Linked DNA regions of Homo sapiens. The protein of the gene in region 3 interacts with the protein of the main gene of each other region in a biochemical or structural test. Each region holds a gene or a part of one and is shown on either strand. Other genes may lie near its edges.

Region 1 (2,699 bases), on a different chromosome or scaffold from region 3:
GCAGAGGTTGCGGTGAGCCGAGATCGCGCCATTACACTCCAGCTTGGGCAACAAGAGTGAAACTCCGTCTTAAAAAAAAAATTTTATATATATATAAATCTTTTCCTCCAAAGTAGCTTTTATGACTTTGCTTAGCCTTAAATCTTACCAGGCAATGTTAGGGGCGTCTTTATCTGTACTTCAGAGTCTTTAGGACACATGTTTATGCAGGTAAACTTTTACCTTGCTGTGTTTGCTAATGGAGAGCCTCAAGAACACTCAAAGGCAAAAACTGTTTTCTAATTACCTCTATACCCAGTGAATGCCTGGGATTATACTCTACTTCGTAAATATGTAAGCGAAGATTCCCATGAATGGCAAAATCCACCAGTAGGTGATGATACCTATGTTATGATTGGGTAAATTTTGGGGTGAAAGGGGTGTTCCTTATAAAATATTGCAGTTGAAGACAGCAGGGAGAGGAGTGCCTGTATTAGTTAACACATAGTTTGACTATATTTTTAGACGATTTCCTTGATTGGAGAGGATGGCACTTAATATTAAAGATGGTGTCCTGGCTAGGTGCCATGGCTCACACCTGTAATCTCAGTATTTTGGGAGGCTGAGCTGGGAAGATAATTCTTGAGACCAGCCTGGGTAATGTAGTGAGACCCTGTCTCTACCAAAAAAAAAAAAAAAAAAAAGCCAGATGTAGTGGCATGCACCTGTAGGAATTCAAAGTTACAGTGAGTTGTTAATTGCACCACTGCACTCCAGCCTAGGCAGTAGAGCAAGACCCTATCTTAAGAGGGAAAAAAAAAAGATGGTGTCCTGTATTATTTTTTTCATACTCTTACAGAAGGCTGAATTAAGAAAAACCAGAAAATCAACAATAGAAGATCACTTGTTTTTCTGCTTTTAATTAGGTCATTCTGAATAGCTGGCATTGCTTTTCTGATGGAAGGCAGTATATAGTTTAGACTATAGGTTTTAGAGCCATACAGACTAGATTTTAAATACTTGTGCCATTTAATAGCTGTGGGGCCTTAGACAAGTCAGCTAACCTTTCCAAGCCTGTTTGCTCAGCAATAAAATGTAGCTAATAGCCACTAGGGGGTTAGCACAGTGTAATAGCTAAGACTCTGTCTATAGTTAGAAAGTTCTAAATCATTTGGGGTTCTTTTTTTCAATGTTCCTTGTCTTTCTGCAGTGTACTTTTGGCAGCTATAATGTATTAGCTTTGGTCTAAAGTTCATCTAAAATTATACCTGGTGGTTTTTTTGCTTTATGTTTTTTGTTTTCTTTTTTTTAAAGAATACGTGGTCTTTTAAAGGGAGTATTTTTCATGTGCGTTGGTTGGATTAACTTCCATTTGCTTTGATTTCTAGGGTGTTTGCTTTGATGTACCTACCGCATCAGTAACAGAAATACAGGTATTCTTTTCCCTTAGATTTTAAAGTTAACATACCTAAATTGTAGAATGTTAATTATGAAAATAGAGAATAATAGATTGGGAAACAATAGTTCTGGTTCCTTTAGTAAGAGATAATCGATAATTAAATTTTGGAATATTCCCCCCTAACTTTTTAATTCTGATATTTTTGTAGTTGAACCCACCTGGTTTCTATATTTCCTTTATACAAAGTTGTGAACGATATCCAGCTCTCCCCACCCTTTAACACTTATATATGGTATATAGATTTTGTGTGTGTGTGTGTGTGTGTGCATGTGTGTGTGTGTTTTCAGACAGAGTCTCGCTCTGTCGCCCAGGCTGGAGTGCAGTGGTGCAATCTCGGTTCACTGCTACCTCCGCCTCCCGGGTTCAAGCGATTCTCTTGCCTCAGCTTCCCAAGTAGCTGGGATTATAGGCCCATCACTACCCCCAGCTAATTTTTTGTATTTTTAGTAGAGACGGGGGTTTCGCCATGTTGGCCAGGCTGGTCTCGAACTCCTGACCGCGGGTGATCCACCCACCTCCCAAAGTGCTGGAATTACAGGCATGAGCCACCACGTCCAGCCTACAGGTTTTCATAGACATTTAAAATTGTTACATCTTTATTCAATACTGTGAGAAATGTGTGCTTAATATATTTGTTTTATTACCTTTGGCTGTAGATACCCTGTAGCAATTGAGTTGAATAAATGGTTTAATAACTTAATAAATGAAGTAGTGATGAGGGCTATTTCTCATAATGAAACTGTGTTTTCCCACACTTCAGGGACACTGGCTTTTGGACCATGATGGGTGGCCAGTGTTATTTTTGACCAGTGACTTGTTAAGCACTTATGTTATCACCTTTTCTTTGAAGAAGTGGCAAATATTTTGTTTTTCTCATGCTTTTTAAAAATTGAATACTAATTAAAGCACACAAAAACAAAACATTCTCTCAACAGGAGAAATGGCATGATTCACGACGCTGGCAGCTCTCTGTGGCCACAGAGCAACCAGAACTGGAAGGACCACGGGAAGGATATGGAGGCTTCAGGGGACAGCGGGAAGGCAGTCGAGGCTTCAGGGGACAGCGGGACGGAAACAGAAGATTCAGAGGACAGCGGGAAGGCAGTAGAGGCCCGAGAGGACAGCGATCAGGAGGTGGCAACAAAAGTAACAGATCCCAAAACAAAGGCCAGAAGCGGAGTTTCAGTAAAGCATTTGGTCAATAATTAGAAATAGAAGATTTATATAGCAAAAAGAGAATGATGTTTGGCAATATAGAACT
Region 2 (3,739 bases), on a different chromosome or scaffold from region 3:
TAAATGGAAAACCTAAACTCCAAAGAGACTCCCACGACAAAACTCTTTCTTCCCTTTCACTCCAAAATTACTGACTTTTAACTCAAAAAGCCAGCCAAAAAATGTATTGTTTCCTGATTCTTATGAATAATGTGGGATAACACATTAAAATTTCATGCCATTTCTGAAGGAGTAAATGTAACTCAAAGTAGCTGAGAACTAAACACAAAAAGTATCATCCTCTGTTCCCCACTGAAAAGCACATTTACATGGGTCCCCTCTAAAATATTGTTTCCACTGATGTCATTCTCACTCCAATCCCCTGAGATTCAAGGTCCCTAAAATCATCCAGCAATGGACTGCAGCTACTGAAAGGGGTCATAAAATATCAGTTCTAGTTTAGGATTCACCACTTACCCACCATGAGACCTGAGAAAGTTGAGACCATGAGACCTCAATTCATCTGAGCTTGTTGAGTATTCCTTACTAGAAATATCTGGGCCCAGAGTATCTTGGATTTCTGATTTTTTCAGATTCTGGAACATCTGCATTATACTAACTCTAATCCAAAAAGCTTCAATGAGCATTTCTTTTGAGCTTCATGTCGGCACTCAAAAAGTTTTGAATTTTGGAGCATTTCAGGTGTTGGATTTTTGGATTAGCAATGTTCAACCTGTAATACCGATCCTATTTATATCACTGTGCTGTTACGTGCAAATGAGAAAGTAATTACGTATAAGATATATTAGTACAAAGTGTTACTAATATTATTTTGACACACTCTATCTAAATTTCCAACTCCAGTTTAGATAGAGGTCTTACTATGTTCCCCGGACTGGATTCAAACTCCTGGGCCCAAAGAATCCTCCCACCTCAGCCTCTCGAGCAGCTGAGACTACAGGCTCGTACATCGCACCACCCAGGAACCAAGATGTATTTGTTTTTAAGACTAACCAATAACATCTTTTCTTTGCTAGATTGAAGCAATGTCTAAAAGACTACCTATGTGTATTTTAGAGAAGCATAATGAATTTGACAGAATGTATTTAAATTTCCATATATATATTTTTAAGAATGCTCATCAAAATATTGTGAGTATGTTAATTATGTGAGGATACATTATTAATGACATAAGTTATTTACTTTAGAAGTTTTTTCAATATTAAAAAGGACTAGGTAGAGATCTTGGGACATTTAATGGCTATTCTTCATTCTTCCAGCCTACTGACACATTCAGCCAAACTCACGCTTCTTTCAGTACAGTTACCCACCTGCTTTCGAGCATCCACATCAGCAGCATCTTCAATGTAAGTATCATCTATTTCACGTTCTTCCAGCTCCTTCTCGGCATTTTCTGGTAGAACAATTTCAAAATCATTCTTAGGGGCAGGAAGGCCCAACAACCCTAAACGGAGATGTTCTCGGGATTCTCTTTCCTGTAGAAAAGAAGTGGTCCTTCTCAATTCATGCATATTAAACATTCCACCAGTATTTTATGAGTCTCTTAAAAATTGATAGCACAACAGGGTGACTCTAGTCAAAATAACTGTACATTTTAAAATAACTAAGAATAATTGGATGGTTTCAAACACAAAGGTTAAATGCTTGAGGGGATGAATACCCCATTTTCCACGATATGATTATTACACATGCATGCCTGTATCAAGATATCTCATGTACCCCATAAATATACACACCTACTATGTATCCACAAAAATTAAAAATTACAGAAAGAGAAAAAAAGTCTCAAAAAAAATCAGCCTAATATTAATTCTAGAAAAATAATCCTGACTTCAGAGCTAAGACAAGTCTTATGTTTATTTTCTATCCCCCCTTCTTCCCAACATTAAGACCAACCAAAAACTTTCACTTGTGATCACTGAAGATACTCTGGGATATTCCAACAGGAGGTCTGAGGCCAGGGCAGAAAAAAAGACCACTTTGAGGGAACACATTTCTGACACCGAAAGTTAACAGCAAATGAAAAGAACAGGTTCAAAAGTTAGTTTGTCCTTGGACTAATAAAATCCACTCTAAAAGATACTTGAATTTGTATGTATGTGTTTATTTTTAATGGAAATACTAAATCCCATGCAGAAGAAAGAAAGTAGAGTCCTGGTTCCCAAAAAAGCCTCCTGGTACCCAGAGTTTTCCCATCCATCCTCAGTGCTTACATGTACCAGGTGTGAGGAACAGATGAGTTGCTATATCTAAAACATCCTCCATGCTTACTCATATTGTAGTCTCCATCTGAGACAGCCCCCACCCTCCTTCAGAACATAGCTCCTCTAATAAGGCTTTCCTGTTACCCAACAAATGTGACTATTCCCTTCTTTAACTACCCTAAGCACACTGGTTTTACTCAAAGGGCTTATTCTGTTCTGATATTGCAATTATTTTTGGACTTAGTTTAGTACTGTCAATCTCCCCAGAATATAAATTTCCTTAGGACAAAGGACATCTTTATTCAACTTTAGATCCCCTCAAATGTCCAAATGCATGCTCTGCATGCATGAGGTTCTTAATCTATTTAATTCTTATGTATCCATTCAGAGTTGGCTTTAGTTGATATCAATTTGAACTTTAAAAAACATATATAAATCAACCAAATATATACATGAGGTTAGAATTAATTTTAAACTGAAGACAAGCCAGTATCATTAGAAGTTTTTTTTTTAATTTCACAATGATTTCTGTGGCATTAGATAATAAGGCCCAATAGCAAAGTAATAAACGCAGTAACACGGGCAGAAGCAAAACTTAACTTTTTACAGTTAGCTTTCTACCTCAGCTTGCTAAAGAAAACTTCAGTGAAATCAACAACGAACATCAATATTCACAAACCTAGTAAGCATAAAGAAAGGTGGGTTTTGAGCCCAAAATATTCCCTTTCATCAAGTCTTACAAATAATTCTTTTTCTGGCATCCACAGGTGTATAGATTCTTAAGGTATATGTGATATGCACTAACAGGAGAAATTTTAATTTGGCATCCATGAGATATTAAAAAAAAATTTAAGAGTATTAAAAGGGAATTGACATTTACCATCTGCTTCACGTAAGAGGGATCACTATAGTCTGCCATTCCATCCTCGGGATTAATGTTTAACTTGTCTCGAAGAGGAGTTCTACCCGGAGTAGAGTTAATAACTGGTTTGGGAGTTGTTCCACTCCGGGGAGTCAGCCCTTCAGCTCCATTAGAAGGAGTCCTAGAAAGACAGGAATCCCAATTAACAGAAGTGCCACTTACATTTGGATTGTGCTTTCAAATGTTTTTCACATAAATTATTTCACAGGAAATATAGAAAAAAAAAAGAATAAAGATTTCAAAATTCTGTCCAGCTGGTTTTGTTAGGATCTCTAGGTTAAAATCAATGTTTGGTCTAGCTAGCATGGTATTTTTATTTTACTGACTTACAATAATCACTACATTTGATATTTTCTTGCCTTCCTAAACTACGTCCACTAAACATTATTTCAACCTTTTCTTGGCACATTAGGGCGACTAAGAACATGCAGTGGGCAGGGAGGTGGGCCACCACACTCAATGACCCCAGATGACTCTTTGAGTTTTGTGTATATTTGTCTCCTCCCTCCCTATCAAGCTGTTGGTTCTCACATCACTATCACTGTCATTATTACAAATGTACACACTTTATTAAATAGTTCCTCCTTTTACATTTTGTTTGGAAACCAAACACCACACTTTTGAAATCACATCTAAACATGAGTAAGTTCCTGAGTGAGGCCTAAGAGATTCT
Region 3 (3,739 bases):
TTTGTAAACCGTTTAGTTTTTTTTTCCCCCTTTTTTGCTCAGTCTGTACCCCTTTGCTACCCTGTTTCTCTCCCTTTCTTTTAACAATATTAGGAGATTACTTTCCTCTGTAAAATTAAAGGAGTGCCTCTGTCTTCTTAAAAGCCACAGCCGCTCCCTTTCACCCACAGGGTTCTCTGTAGGTGGACAATGCTGCTTGCCACTGTTTTTTACCTCCAAATATGTTTTATTTTGGTAATTACCCTAAGAAAAAATTAGTTCCTCCTTACTGACATCGCAAGGATGTTATTAAGAGAGAGTAAAAAAAAAAAATAGATCTGAAGGGTTTACCCAAGAAAGGTGAGTCCTAAGGTAGAGGTGGTGATGCTACTCAATGAAAGCTCTTGTCTTTCAAGAACTTCTCTTTGTAAATCCTGGTTTGGCCCATGAGTGACCCAAGCCACTTTTAGGCTTTCCTAAACCCTAAGCATTCTTGTTTGGAAATCTCTATTCTATATTCTAAAATGCACCTCGTCACACATTAAATGTTATTGTTTTGGAAGTAAAATAAGAATTTAAAAATTGCTCTTAAAATTTTATGACTGAGAATAATTCCTTTACCACTGACAATTTTTTAACAACCATTGTTCATTTTTGAGAATTCTTGCAGTGAGAAATTTTGTTCTACACACTGCAAAATGCAGCGAATTTTGTTACAAATATTAAATTTAACAATTAATGAGTTTGACATGATGTTACTCTTTCTACCATTTACTTAAACATTCATTGATTTTGCATTTCCAGGTTTCTTTCAAGGTTTGAAAGCTGATGAATTTTGCTTACAGTTCTCTTATTTCTATAGACCCTCCCTTGAAATTCTCACAGTCCTGAGCCCTATGTCTTTATGGCTACTGGGTAAAATAGTCAAGTGAGAAATTAGCTCATCCATCCTTTGGGCATAGAGTTTGCTGCCACAAATTTAGGTCCCCTGCTTTCTAACTCTTCAGAAATAGGAGAGACATGAGATCACTTTTGTCCACTGATTCTGTCCTACACACGTTTATAAGAGAAATGGGTGAGGGACAAATTGCTAAGAGGCAATGCCAAGGTTTGAGTAGATTCCAAGTGTGATTTCGGCAGGTCTGTGGAGTTGCTTTCTCTATGGGAGAAAGTTGACGCTGAATATTTATTTTCAAACAACCGTATGTGTTTATATTGAAGCATCTGTTAGACTGTTAAATCAAAAATCCATGCCTTTTCCTATTCCCAGGTCATATACGGAATTTTTTCAAGTTGTAATTTTTTGGTTACAATATATATACTAAGACCATATGGTTTTCTCATACCATTCTTTGTATTTTCTAAATGCATATTAATAAAATGTTGGAGGCAACAAAACTTGATTGGGAACAGTTTGTATATGTGGTTCTGAAAAAGCAAAGGCTTCCACTTCAATGAGCTACAAGCTGTTAATACATTTCAAATGTGTTGCTAGACTGAAAATGAGCACTTTCCAGCATAGATTCAGAAAAAGCTGACCTTTCTCACAGTGCTATTGTATGGATAAATTCACAAAAATATCCATGTCCATGTAGCCAACATGCAAAGCAGAGTTTATAAGTTGGGTGATATGTACAGGAGGCTAGCGAGGATTTAGAAGAAAATGAACGTAAAATTGATTTTTACAGTATATTACTTCCCTGAGTAGATGTCAGTTAAAGTTACTTTAATCATTTTATCACATCGATTGATATTACTTACACTATAATAAAAGGTAATCTTTTGGTAATAAGTCTAAGGCAGTGCTGTAACTGGAATTTGGGAGGAAAGACCCACCTCCCATCTGTTCTTAAGCTTCTGAAATATGTTCAGCACAGCTTAGCTTCTCTTGGTACGGATACTGCTGTCAATATTTACATGCTGCTGTCTTCTAGGGAGCCATAAACTATCTTCAAGTATTGTAACATAGCAGCTAGAATGATGTGCCTAGATTTTTCTTTGAATTTCATAAAACAAAGCTGTATCTGTATGATTTCAATGAAATCAAGAAAATTCTGACTTTGTCCACCCAGCTAAATGTGATCTCTTTGACAAAGGAAGAGTCTCATTCAGCTTCCCAAGGGGACTTGCAATCACTCATTGTTGGGGTTTTTCTTCTGGAAATGCTGCTTAACACAATTGGCGTTGCAGCACACAGGCAAGGCACTGGTTTCCGTTACGATGCGCTTGCCCAAATACTGGAACTGGGTGATCTGGTTTGAAAAAGAGCCAGCTTTTTTTTTTTTTTTCCTAAACTTCCTCATTTTGAGTGGGTTAATTCTGTTCTAGGAAAAGTTTTCACAGAATTGCTTTCTGAGCGCCAGCAAAATGTTATGTTAGAAATAATGGTGTTTACTTCCATTCTCGATTTTTTTCCATAAACTTTTAGAAGTTCATTTCCTAAATCTAACTTTTATTATCTTACTTGACCTAGCCAATATAAATGGCATTAAGTCATTATTGCCATCCACATAACAGTACTTTGTGCTTCACAAAATAGGAAAAAAAAATATATAGCTCTTTCATCCCCTAAACACCAGGTTGATCTGGCTGTTCTTTTAAGGACGTCAGAAATGGATGGAAGCAGCCTGAACTTTGCCCCATATGAATTCGCTGCATTCCATCTAGGTCTTGAATCTGTTAGATCATCGTCCTAGGTCGGGTTCCCTTGATGCAGAGCTTGGGGTAAGCCTGCTTGTGCAGGTGACTGATTAACGGCATGTTCTCAGGAGAGAGAGAATGGGAAGTGCTGCAGGGGCAGCGCTAAGGAAGTTTCTGGCCTCCTCCAAGCCTCCTTGCAGCTGGACGCTGTTTCAGCCCAATCCCACGGGAGCCCTGAAGCCTGAATAGCGTCATGGAGTTGGTCTTTCCTTGAGGCAAGGGGGCCGGCCCGTGGTACCCCGTTCAGTCCACCCAGCTGTGGGATACCTGGGGGTGGGCGAGGCGGCGGCTCTGTTCAGGCAAGGGCAGTTCTCTGGAGAAGTGGGTGGCCATGGAACGAGAGCAGTCCGCACCCCTGCAGCTGAGGGATGGACGGACAGGCCTGGTGAAGGGAATGTGGGCGGCACACCAATAGCACCTCCTTCCGTCATCACAGAGAGCCTCTTTCCCCTGGAACCTGTGCTCACTGGAGTTTTCCTTCCTCTCCTGACCTCATTAGGCAGTGGCCAGATCCAGCTTTGGCAGTTCCTCCTGGAGCTCCTGTCGGACAGCTCCAACTCCAGCTGCATCACCTGGGAAGGCACCAACGGGGAGTTCAAGATGACGGATCCCGACGAGGTGGCCCGGCGCTGGGGAGAGCGGAAGAGCAAACCCAACATGAACTACGATAAGCTCAGCCGCGCCCTCCGTTACTACTATGACAAGAACATCATGACCAAGGTCCATGGGAAGCGCTACGCCTACAAGTTCGACTTCCACGGGATCGCCCAGGCCCTCCAGCCCCACCCCCCGGAGTCATCTCTGTACAAGTACCCCTCAGACCTCCCGTACATGGGCTCCTATCACGCCCACCCACAGAAGATGAACTTTGTGGCGCCCCACCCTCCAGCCCTCCCCGTGACATCTTCCAGTTTTTTTGCTGCCCCAAACCCATACTGGAATTCACCAACTGGGGGTATATACCCCAACACTAGGCTCCCCACCAGCCATATGCCTTCTCATCTGGGCACTTACTACTAAAGACCTGGCGGAGGCTTTTCCCATCAGCGTGCATTCACCA

The links.
Region 1: the proteins of ERG (region 3) and DDX21 form a complex in vitro, tested with the Homo sapiens proteins (one large-scale study listed by BioGRID).
Region 2: the proteins of ERG (region 3) and CDC5L form a complex in vitro, tested with the Homo sapiens proteins (one large-scale study listed by BioGRID).

The regions. Positions count from the first base shown.
Region 1 is NC_000010.11:68,980,170-68,982,868, forward strand, and holds part of DDX21 (nucleolar RNA helicase 2), read left to right. Parts: intron 1-1,367; coding exon 1,368-1,412; intron 1,413-2,373; coding exon 2,374-2,643; 3' UTR 2,644-2,699.
Region 2 is NC_000006.12:44,422,095-44,425,833, reverse strand, and holds part of CDC5L (cell division cycle 5-like protein), read right to left. Parts: intron 3,188-3,739; coding exon 3,025-3,187; intron 1,416-3,024; coding exon 1,251-1,415; intron 1-1,250.
Region 3 is NC_000021.9:38,383,363-38,387,101, reverse strand, and holds part of ERG (transcriptional regulator ERG), read left to right. Parts: intron 1-3,178; coding exon 3,179-3,699; 3' UTR 3,700-3,739. UniProt on the Homo sapiens protein: Transcriptional regulator. May participate in transcriptional regulation through the recruitment of SETDB1 histone methyltransferase and subsequent modification of local chromatin structure.